Linked DNA regions of Homo sapiens: region 2 is linked to region 1. Evidence: fine-mapped expression QTL. A gene starts in region 1. The other region holds a variant in brackets. All regions are shown on one strand. Distances are between the middles of the regions.

The links.
Region 2: its variant is fine-mapped to the expression of LINC03066 in caudate (GTEx, PIP 0.97). The same link has a PIP of 0.9 or more in nucleus accumbens and prefrontal cortex.

Annotation. Positions count from the first base shown.
Region 1 is chr6:203,015-208,389 of GRCh38, reverse strand. It overlaps LINC03066 (long intergenic non-protein coding RNA 3066), which reads left to right and starts at 2,906. Exons shown (of 8, transcript NR_126020.1): 1 at 2,906-3,503.
Region 2 is chr6:146,361-151,735 of GRCh38, reverse strand. It overlaps the pseudogene SEPTIN14P6. Among named protein-coding and RNA genes, the nearest start is that of LIRIL2R, 31 kb to the left of the region's middle. The variant G/T (reference allele first, on the strand shown) is at 2,538.

The DNA of each region.
Region 1 (5,375 bases):
AGAGGGTCTCCATCTTCGAGCTGAAGAGTCTTTCCCAGAGTGGATGTGCAGCCACCACCTGCCCAGGGGGTATTTTCCCAGAGCATCATTTCTACTCTACAAAGAATTTTAAATTTTGTGGGGTTTATTTTGTTTGTTTGTTTGTTTGTTTTTTGAGATGAAGTCTTGTTCTGTTGCCCAGGCTGGAGTGCAGTGGTGTGATCTCGGCTCACTGCAACCTCCGCCTACTGGGTTCAAGTGATTCTCCTGCCTCAGCCTCCCGAGTAGCTGGGATTAAAAGCATGGGCCATCAGGCCTGGCTAATTTTTGTATTTTCAGTAGAGACGGGGTTTCACCATGTTGCCCAGGCTGGTCTCGAACTCCTGGCCTCAGGTGATCTGCCTACCTTAGCCTCACAAAGTGCTGAGATTACAAGCATGAGCCACTGCACCTGGCCAAATTTTGTTTTTATATTTAAAAATACCTGGACATATGGCCAGGAGCAGTGGCTCATGCCTGTAATCCCAGCACTTTGGGATGCTGAGGCGGGTAGATCATTTGAGGTCAGGAGTTCAAGACCAGCCTGGGCAACATGGTGAAACCCCATCTCTACTGAAAATACAAAAATTAGCTGACTGTGATGGTGGGTGCCTGTAATCTCAGGTACTCAGGAGGCTGAGGCAGGAGAATCACTTAATCCGGGAGGTGGAGGTTGCAGTGAGCCAAAATCATGCCACTGCGTGATCTGTCCAGCCTGAGCGACAGAACAAAACTCTGTCTAAAAACAAAAACAAAAAACCTGGACATACCAGAAAATAAAATGCAGAGGTCATTAACATTTTTAGCTTTTCTTTTCTTTTTTTTTTTTAAGGAACCTTAAAGAAATGCTTGTGTTTAAGACAAACAGGCACTCCACATGATTCCCCTAAGCTCTGACGATGTTTATTTGGGTACAGCCTCCTCAGTTTATTTGCCTGGGGAGGAAACTAAGGCCCAGAGAAGTGAAGAGACTCTCCCTCCTCATGGCTCTGTCCTCTGCGAGGAAGAAGCATGGACGTTGCTGTCACTTTGTCTCCAACGCACCCTCAGTGCCTAGAACAGTGACTGGTACCACTCCCTGGCATCACTCACTAAGTGCAGGTTGAGTGTCCCTTATTTGAAATACTTGGAACCAGAAGTGTTTCAGATTTCAAATTTTTTTTGATTTTGGAATATTTGCAGAATTCATTCTGGCTGAGCATCCCTAATCTGATATCCAACATCCAAAACGCTCCAGTGAGTGCCTTCTTTAAGGGTCGTTTTGGTACTAAAACAGTTTTGGAGCATTTTGTATTTTTGGATTAGGGATGCTTAACCTGTATTTACTGAATAACTCAATTAATTTTAAGAGGCGAAAGGACCCATAAAGCCTCTGAGTTGCCTAGGAAGTGGCCACATTAACTCCAAGGATGAGGCGGACACCTTCTCGGGGCAGGATCGAACTGTTTCTGATCTTCAGCATCTGGCCCCATAAAATGAGAAGGGTTTTGCCTTGGGGTGAAACTGACCCTGGCATCTCCCTGGAGATGAAAAGCTCCTTATTTCCTAAAGATTCTTCTCAGAGCCAGAGGAAGTATGCTGAAATAGTCACAGTGATCATTTCTCATGAAGAGATATGAGTTTTACCCTCTTTTTAACTTTCTTCCTAATTTTTAAATAATAAGGTTGTATCACTCACAAAATAAGAATAACTTTATAGCACTCTGTATACATACATATATATGTGTATATATGTGTGTGTGTATGTATATATATATGTGTGTGTGTGTAAAGTCAGCAACAACAAGCCTTCCCCAAAGCGGCACACTGTCTGCATTTCTTCAGTGCCAACGTGAGGCACTTATGGGCATCCCCAGGGACTTGTGCGCCAGGCAGCTCCCATCGGCCCCGACGGCCAGTCCTGCCCACATGTGTGACATATATGGTGCTCCCAGACCTCCAAGGTTTGGTAAGAAAGAAAAACACTTGGACAACACACAGCCAGGCCGTGAACGTCACTTAGAAACGGGACCCATAAGAGCGACCTTCCCTGCTTCTCACGAGCCAGTGCATGCCCACACCAGTCCAGGCCTTTTCTTCTTCTACTGAGTGCTGCTTCCCGTCTCAGCTGATAGCACCACCACTCGTAGGTGAGTCCCTGTTCAACAGAACTCAGAGCTTTGCATCCATGGAGTGCCATGAACAAAAGTCACCGGTGTTTCTTAGGGAGAGAACTGCTTTTGCTCAGGGTCAGGATGCCCCACCTGCTTGGGGTGGGGAAGTTGAAGCTGGAGGAAGAGCTGGCTGCTCTGCAGAAGTTCAGAGGAATTGGAAGATGGGGCCAGGGAGGATGTGAGGAAGGGGAGGAAGGCAGAGACGGTGCAGGTGACTCAGCAGGAGGCTGGAGTCTAGAGGGAGAAGCTCCTTGACTGGGGTTGCTGAAGGGGTTTTAGAAATGAGGCTGTCAAAAAACATCACAGCTGCCTACTGCTTAATTTCTAGCTGACTCTGTGTTTCTAACCGTCTGTAGAGACTCCACACAGATAAAGCCCCTGTGCCACGGATTCTAGGGGGACGGGGCAAGAAGCCCAGTGCCAGGGTAGGAAGGAGGCCTTGGGAGGGGAGGCTGAAGAGTGAAAACTCAGGAGCAGATGCCGGGAGGCAGAAGTGACATCTGAACACACAGCCTCCGAGACAGTCCCTGGGTGGGAGACACTGAGGTTTCTGTTGTGCGCTGGATACGGCTTAAGCCTAATTTTACCTCAAATTTCAAAGGCCAGGGCGATCCAAGCTGATATTTGAGTTCCATTACCAGGCATATTCCTTACAACAAGAAGAATGTAAATTCTGTGGAAATTCTAGAACTTCTTTTTTACATTTAAACACAATTCCTTTGTTCCCATATCCTGAAATCAGTAAATTTAAGCAATTTTATTTTTCATTCTGTGCTTCAGGGATCTATGAGGGTCAACACATATTTATCACACGCTGACCTTGTGCTCAGGCCTATAGGAAAATGAACCTCCCTGCCCGCAATGACCTTAGAACCTAACTAAGGATATGGTTAAAACAAGCGCAGGATTGGGTGAGACCTGCTCAAGGGTCAGGCGCTGGTTTGTCGGGGAGAAATGTTGCCCAGGAAGGACAGGTGTGAAAGAAAGAGAAGATCCTGCAAGACCGGAGGGCCCAGGAAAGTCTGGGGGACTCAAAGGAGAGTTTCAGGATTGACCATGGGTGGACAGGGCTCTGCAGACCAGGATCTTTTCTATGCACACTTGGGGCCAGAAAGTTCTTTGTGGTGGGGGCTGTCCTGTACAATGCAGGAAGCTCAGCAGCATCCCTGGCCTCCACCCACTCAATGCCAGTGGCACTCCCTCCCTAGTTGTAAATGTGTGCAGACATTAGTACTTGTCACCTGCAGGGAAGAATCACCCCACTGAGAACCACATGCTGAGTCAAGGCAACAGCATAGGAATTGGAGCACGCAAGAGAGCTGGTCAACACAGGTGAGCTCTTGTGTGGGCCTCTCTATGGGCCTCCAGCCAGTCCCCAGACAACTCTGCTCTGGGCACCAGTGGCCACGTTCTCAGGGCAGGCACTACTGGTGATCATTCTACTCACACCTCTCTCTGGCATCAATGGCCTGATTACACACTGGGGATAGTAGGTAGTAGGTATATTTAGAGGGGCACAAAAATAACCGTGGCTGCCAAGCCAAAAAATTCAGAATTGCTCTCCTTAGTACAGGTTTAATATCGCTAATCTGACTTCAGAGTTTTGGATTAGGGATGCCAAACTGGTAAGTATAATGCAAAGATTCCAAAATCCAAAAAATCTGAAATACAAAACACTTCTGGTGGCAAGCATTTGGGACAACAAAGTGTGGTATATTTCTGATGAGATTTTGTCGTGTTTCAGAAAAATTAATTTGATAGTGATGTGCCCAATTGAATGCAAGGAAGGAGCAGGGTTTTCTGACCTGGTGATTGTGGATACGCCTCAGGAGGCTGATGACAATGAAACTGCGCCATCATTGTGTGGGTTCATTTGCTTTTCTGAGGAGGGATTCCATAGATTTCATCCGACACTCCACAGGTTGAGAGCTCTTGGATTCAACTGGTGCCCAAACACAAGACAGGACCACCAGTGCATATTTGAATAGGACAATCCTTCTGCCCATCCATCTGGTCCCTGCTTCCACTTCCCACAAGCAAACATCCAGTCCACAAAACTCATTGAGCAGCTGCAGTGAGCTGTGTGCCAAGCATGTGCCAGGGACTGGAGCTGCAAAGAGAGATGGAGGCCACAGGGAAGAGGCCACGAGATAGTCAGTTGTCTCATGAAGTAGAATACAGGTGAAGCCAGATTATCACAAGCCATGAAAACCTTCTGGAGGTGACGTCTGAGCTTTGTCTTGCCAGTTGATCTCGCTAGAATACATACGAAGTAAAGAGGGGCCTGGAATTGCTGGTGGCTGAGGAAATGGGAGAGGAAAAAGCATGCCGGACAGTCACGGTGCAGGAAGCCCTCATCACTACTAAGACTTACTGACTAATCGCACACGGGGGAAGGAAGCTTGGGTGGCCGTGAGTCAAGGATCCAAGCCTGGAAGCCTGCAGACAATACTGACTGGGGTTGGCAGCAGAAAGGGGAGGACGTTTTGAGTGGGAAGACAATGAGTTTTGGTTTTAGATATCTTGAGTTGAAGGCAATGAGAGGATACCCAGAGACTATTCAGAACATCTTGAGAGGAACTGGGAATACAGGACTGCTGCTGGGGACATGTCAGGGAAAGAGGTGGGCAGAGAGGAAATGGGTCTGTTTTCTCAGGGGCAGTGAGGGGCACCGTCGAGCCAGCCTTCCACAGCTCTGGTTTCTCTGGGCACTTTCTTTCATGGGCTTCTTTGTGGGTCACAGACATGTTCGGTGGGGAGAAAAATCTCAGTAGAGCAACCTTCATTAAAGTTTCGGGTTCCAGGTTTGAATGAGTAGTTGGGTGTTGAGCAGGATCCTTCCCCGGAGTGATGAGGGGGAAGGGATGTTCAAGCACTGGGTGGAGGGTAGGCACATTCTATGTTTTGATAGAACCTCCTAGTCACATTCACCCCCATTGTGATGCCAGCCAGTGGTCCTCAAAACGTAGTGTCCATGAGAACCACTGAGAGCTTGTTAGGAAAAGCCATCAGCTCAGCCCCACCTCCCTAGAGATTGTGATGTTTAGGTCTGAGGTGGACTCATATGGGTTGTGTTTGTTTGTTTACTTTTTACACAGTAAATTTGGCTTTGTGGAGGTCAGTGGTGGAGTGTGCGGGTTTTATGAATTCTAGCACAGGGAGTGGATTTGTGTAACCACCACAATGCATGCAGAAAAGTTCCAC
Region 2 (5,375 bases), 57 kb after region 1:
CAAAAGTGCAAGAAAGTCTCTCAATGTGGGTTGTTGAAGAAATGCAGGTCTTTTTTCTTTTGGAAGTCTCCCTAGAATGGGGTCAAGGACTCTGCCCATTCTAGGATGAAAAACTGGGATATTAGACACCCTCAGTTATTTATTCCAAGCCTTCATTTTGGGCTCTTAATTAGTTTATTCAACCATCACAATCTCAAATGCTAGCAAAGCTGAGAACTCAGTTTTGAAATTTACTCTTGGGTCCCCTCAGCCAAGAGTGGGTCTGTTCAGTCAGTTGGGAGCTTAGGATTTCATTTTCATTTATCATTGCTAATGGGAAAGAGTACGCTGTCTTCATGGCAGCTGAATTTGCAAGAAACTCCTTGGATGGGGTTAATGGCAGCTGTATTTTTCTGGGAGCTCTGCTTTAACTGGATAAAGTAAGTTCTGCTAAGATTTCTTCCTTTATCTTCAGTATCTCAAATGCTTTCATTTAAATAATCTTTATAACAACTTTTGATGTCTGAGTGGATTCCCACACAGTCATCTATTGTAAGACTTTCTGATTCCTTTTTTTTCCTTTGTTCATTATGAATAAGGCTTCTGTAAATAATTGCATGGTAGCTTTTGTTTGGAAATAGCATCAAAGTAGTTGTCAAAATACTTAGGAATGTGATTTTTGGATTGTAAGGTGAAACTTGTTTAGCTTTGGAAAAAAGTGCCCAACTTGTAATAGGGGAGGAAAAATAATTTTCTATGTTTTTGGAATTCTGAGATGGGACCCTCTGTAAAAACTGACAGATTAAAATGAGAAAAACAGAAAAGTTTAAAAACATGTATACCTTATGGATACATGGGAGATACTCAGGGCAAAATGAGTAAATCTCCAACAGGTGGCTTTCAATTCAAGCATAAATACTATGTTGAACTTAAAGAAAGAAGATTTGAGGTGCAGTAGTGGGGAGTTAGCCAGCAAAAGCACAGTAGACAAGGGTAAGGTTTGTTATACAGACTTAAGTCCATGCAGTCTCCATTGATAAGACTCTTTAGTGATTTAGTTATCCTTCTCTTCTTGGTGTTGAGAGAGGTAGCTTTTGAATGGGGATTTCCTTTATAGATGTAAATTTCCCTTACACAAGGGTAACTTCTACTCTGTTTTCAGAACTTCCTTTGTTAGCATTTTTTTTTTTCAAAATAATCAGCTTGGAATAATTCTTAAGCAAAAGGGACATATTTTGGGGTGGCATATTCTGGTTTCCTACCATTATATTTTGGGGTGGCATATTTTGGTCTTATACACTGTGTTCCACCGGCAATGAAAAGAGTTCTTGTTTTTCCTCCAGCAATTTGTCATTTTTTAAAGAGTTTAGCAGTTCTAAGAGATGCAGACCAGCTGTGCTATCTCATTGTGGTTTTCAGTTCTCTAGCATGTTGAGCATGTTTTTGTATGTTTACCTGCCATCTGTAGATCTTCCTTGGTAAGATGTCTGTTGAGATCTGTGTGCCTTTTTAATTGGGCTGTTTAACTTATTGTTTAGTTTTAAGAATTTTTAAATATATTTTGAATACAAATTCTCAGATCTGTATTTTGCAAATATTTTCTTCAATATGTGGCTTGTCTTTTTGTTATCTTAACAAGGTCTTCTCCAGAGTATAAACTTTAAATATTAAGAAATCCACATTGTCATTTCTTCTGTGTATATCAACCTTTTGTGTCATTTGTTAAAATTCATTACCAAACCCAAAGGCACATAGCTTTTCTTCTATAGATTCTTCTAGAAATGGTATAGTTTTGCATTTTTAGTGTAAGGATGATTTTGAGTGATTATTTGTGTAAGTTGTAAAGTTTTCATCTACATGCATATCATTTCCTATGGTTTCCAATTAATCCTTCCATCACTATTTTTGGGAAACACACAGGATAGTGGGCTCTGTTAGAGGAGATAGATAGCTAGACATGAACAGGAGGGGGAGCTCCTGGAAAAGGGAAAGTCTGAGAAGGCTCACCTGGAGGGACCACCAAAAATGCACATATTAGTAGCATCTCTAGTGCTGGAGTGGATGGGCACTTGTCAGTTGTGGGTAGGAGTGCGAAGAGGTACCTATGCAGAAAGAAAAACCCTAGAACTCTCTTTAAGATGCCCCAACCATCATTCACTCTGCAATAAAAATGTCAGAATATTGGTAGCTACATGCTGATAAGAAGGACAAAGGGGACATTCTTAAGAGAAACCTGGCACCCTAAGTGCAGATTAGGGCAAAGAAGGACATTCAAAAGAGATAGGCAGGCACACTGGGTACAAACGTGACCGCTGTCAGCCTGCCTGGGATGGCGGGAAGGAGGCTGGTGCCAGAGTGGATTCGGATTGATCACCACACATGTACCTCAACCAACAGTGAGGAGGTCCCACAAGCCTAAGTGTGGCAAGTCGGGGACCTAAGGCAGTAGCAGGAAAACCAGACAAAGAGAACAGGTGGAGACTTGAGACAGAGGCAGGAATGTGAAGAAGTCCAAAATAAAATTCCCTGCACAGGACTCCTAGGATGTTTTCATGCAC[G/T]ATCAGCCCACTCCTCCCTATTTTTCTACAATGAGCTCTTTACACTGTATTTCTTTTCAATGAAGTTGTCTCCCATTTTTGTACTGCCTCTTGGTGAAAATCTTTCTTCCAAGTTAGACAAGAACTGGGACATCAGCTCTCCCTAGTACTAGCTCCGTTTCAGTTGAATTTACAGAACTGATGGGGCTTAAAAACTGATGCTCTGACTTTAAGTGGTGCAGGAGGCAGCCAGTAGGGGACGCCAACCGTCACACTGGGAGCAAGAGAGCCCTGCCTAGTCCCCATCTGCCTGCAGGTGGCGTGCTGCCTCGACACTGCCACCAAGAGGGCCAGGCAGTGTCTCCAGCTGCCAGCAGGTGGCGTACGACGACTACACTGTGAGCAACAGGGCCCTGCAGTGTCCTTAGCTGCCAGCAGGTGTCATACGGGCACCACACCATGAGCAAGAGGACCCCGCAGTGCCCTGGTTGCCAACAGGGGGCGTGCTGCCACTACACTGTGAGCGAGAGGTTCCTGTAGTGCCCCCAGGGGCCAGAAGAGGGCGTGCCCCCACTGCACTGCAAGCAAGAGGGCCCGGCAGTGTCCCCAGCTGCCAGCAGGGGGGTGTGCTGCCACCACACTGTGAGCAAGAGGACCCTGCAATGTCCCTAGCTGCCACCAGGCGGCGTGCAGCCGCTATACTGTGAGCAAGAGGGCCCTGCATTGCCCCGGCGCCAGCAGGGGGCGCTGGCCACCACTATAAGCAACAGAGCCCTGCAGCTGCCCTAGTCGCCAGCAGGGGGCGCACTGGCACAGCACCGTGACCAAGCGGGTCCTGTAGTGCCCAGCTGCAAGCAGGGGGCGGTCGAGCCCGGCTTTTCGAATTACTGAGGTTCCACCCGTCTCCGCGCCTGCACCGCGCCCCACCCCCAGCACAGGGGCGTGCGACTGTGCTCCTGCACCACGCCACCCCAACCCCCGCCCGGCGGCGTGCTCTCTGCGCATCCACCGCGCCTCCCGCGCGCACGTCGCGTCAGTCTGTGCGTGCCCGCGCCGGCGCGGGGTGCCTTTGCGGGGGCAGAGCTGCGTTCTGCTTAACACAGACCCGGGGGACACCAAAAACGCGGAGCAGCTTTCTCAGCACACACCTTGGGGGCACGGCCTCGCTTTGGGACAACTCAGGGCAGCATCGACGGTGAACAAAATCCTTTCTGTTTGCAGCCCTGAATAATCAGGGTTAGGGTTAGGGTTAGGGGTTAGGGTAGGGTTAGGGTTAGGATTAGGGGTTAGGGTTAGGGTTAGGGTTAGGGTTTAGGGTTAGGGTTAGGGTTAGGGTTAGGGTTAGGGTTATTGGTTAGGGTTAGGGTTAGGGGTTAGGGTTAGGAGTTAGGGTTAGGGGTTAGGGTTAGGGTTCAGGTTCGGGGTTCGGGTTGGGGTTGGGTTTGGGGTTAGGGTTAGGGTTAGGTTTTGGGGTTAGGGTTAGGGTTTGGAGTTAGGGGTTAGGGTTAGGGGTTACCGTTAGGGTTAGTGTAGGGGTTAGGGGTTAGGCTTAGTGGTTAGGGTTAGGGTTAGGCTTAGGGTTAGATTACAATTTCTAACCTGTTTTATTTTGTTTTTTTTCTGAGACAGGGTCTCCCTCTTTTGTCCAAGGCTGGAGTGTGGTAGTGCTATCACAGCTGACTGCAGCCTCAACCTTCCAGGCTGAAGCGATCCTCCCATCTCAATCTCCTACGTGGCTGAGACTACAGGTGCTTGCCACTATGCCCAACTAACATTTGGAATTTTCGTATACGTGGATTCTAGAGGGGTGACAGCGAAACGTGAGTAAGCATGGATTTTGGTATATGCAGAGATGGGGGGCTGGAACTAATTCTGTATACTGAGGGATGACGACTGTATATGTTTTTACAATTACGCTGTAGGATACATACTGTTGCATAGCCTTGAAAATAATAATTTTTAATTGAGTGGAATAATAATAATATTGATAAAAGTAGCAGCTGGCCAGGTGTGGTGGCTCACACTGGTAATCGCAACACTTTGGGAGGCTGAGGCAGGAGGATGGCTTGAGGCCAAGAGTTTGCGATAGGCCTTGGAAACAAAGGGAGTCACCATCCCTATAGAAAAATACATGAATTAGCCTAGTGTGGTGGCATGTTCCTGTAGTCCCAGCTACTTGGGAGGCTGAGGTGGGAGGATCACTTGAGCCCAGGGAGGCTGAGACTGCAGTGAGTCATGATCAGGCCTCTGCACTCCAGCCTGGGTGACAGAGTGAGACCCTGTCTCTAAACAACAAAAAAGTAGCAGCTAACATCAACTGACCTTTTACCGGGTGCCTATGGATACCATAGTTTAATTTCTTATAACTGTTTCTTATTTTACTTACCAACTCTGTCTTCAGTTACTCCCAGATTTTTACTGTGTGTGTACAGATGACCTTTTGGAGGAGCCTCAACAGGCACAGCTCCTCCCTCATAGTGGCCCATTTAGGCCCAACTCATGACTGTCGGGCTATTTCCAGGCCTAGTGTCTGCCTCGTGGCTGACTGTTGAAGCCCAAAACTTCCTCAAATCAGCCTTTTGCCCAACTTCTGTCTACTGTCGGACTCTACAGGCCAGCCTCTGCCTCACAGTGGACCCTCCAGACCCAGATGGTGTCTCACTGTGGCATCCTCAGGCGAAGCTCCTGCCTTTTGGCAGCCTCTCCGGGCCCAGCTCCTCCTGCCTCCCAGTGGCCTCTTTCGGCCCAGCCCAGCTCATGGCTCTCGGCGGCCTTCCCAGGCCCCGCTTTTGACTTTTGGCAGCCTCTTCAGGCGCAGAACTTGATCTCCAGTCGGCCTTTGCAGGCCCGGCCTCCTGC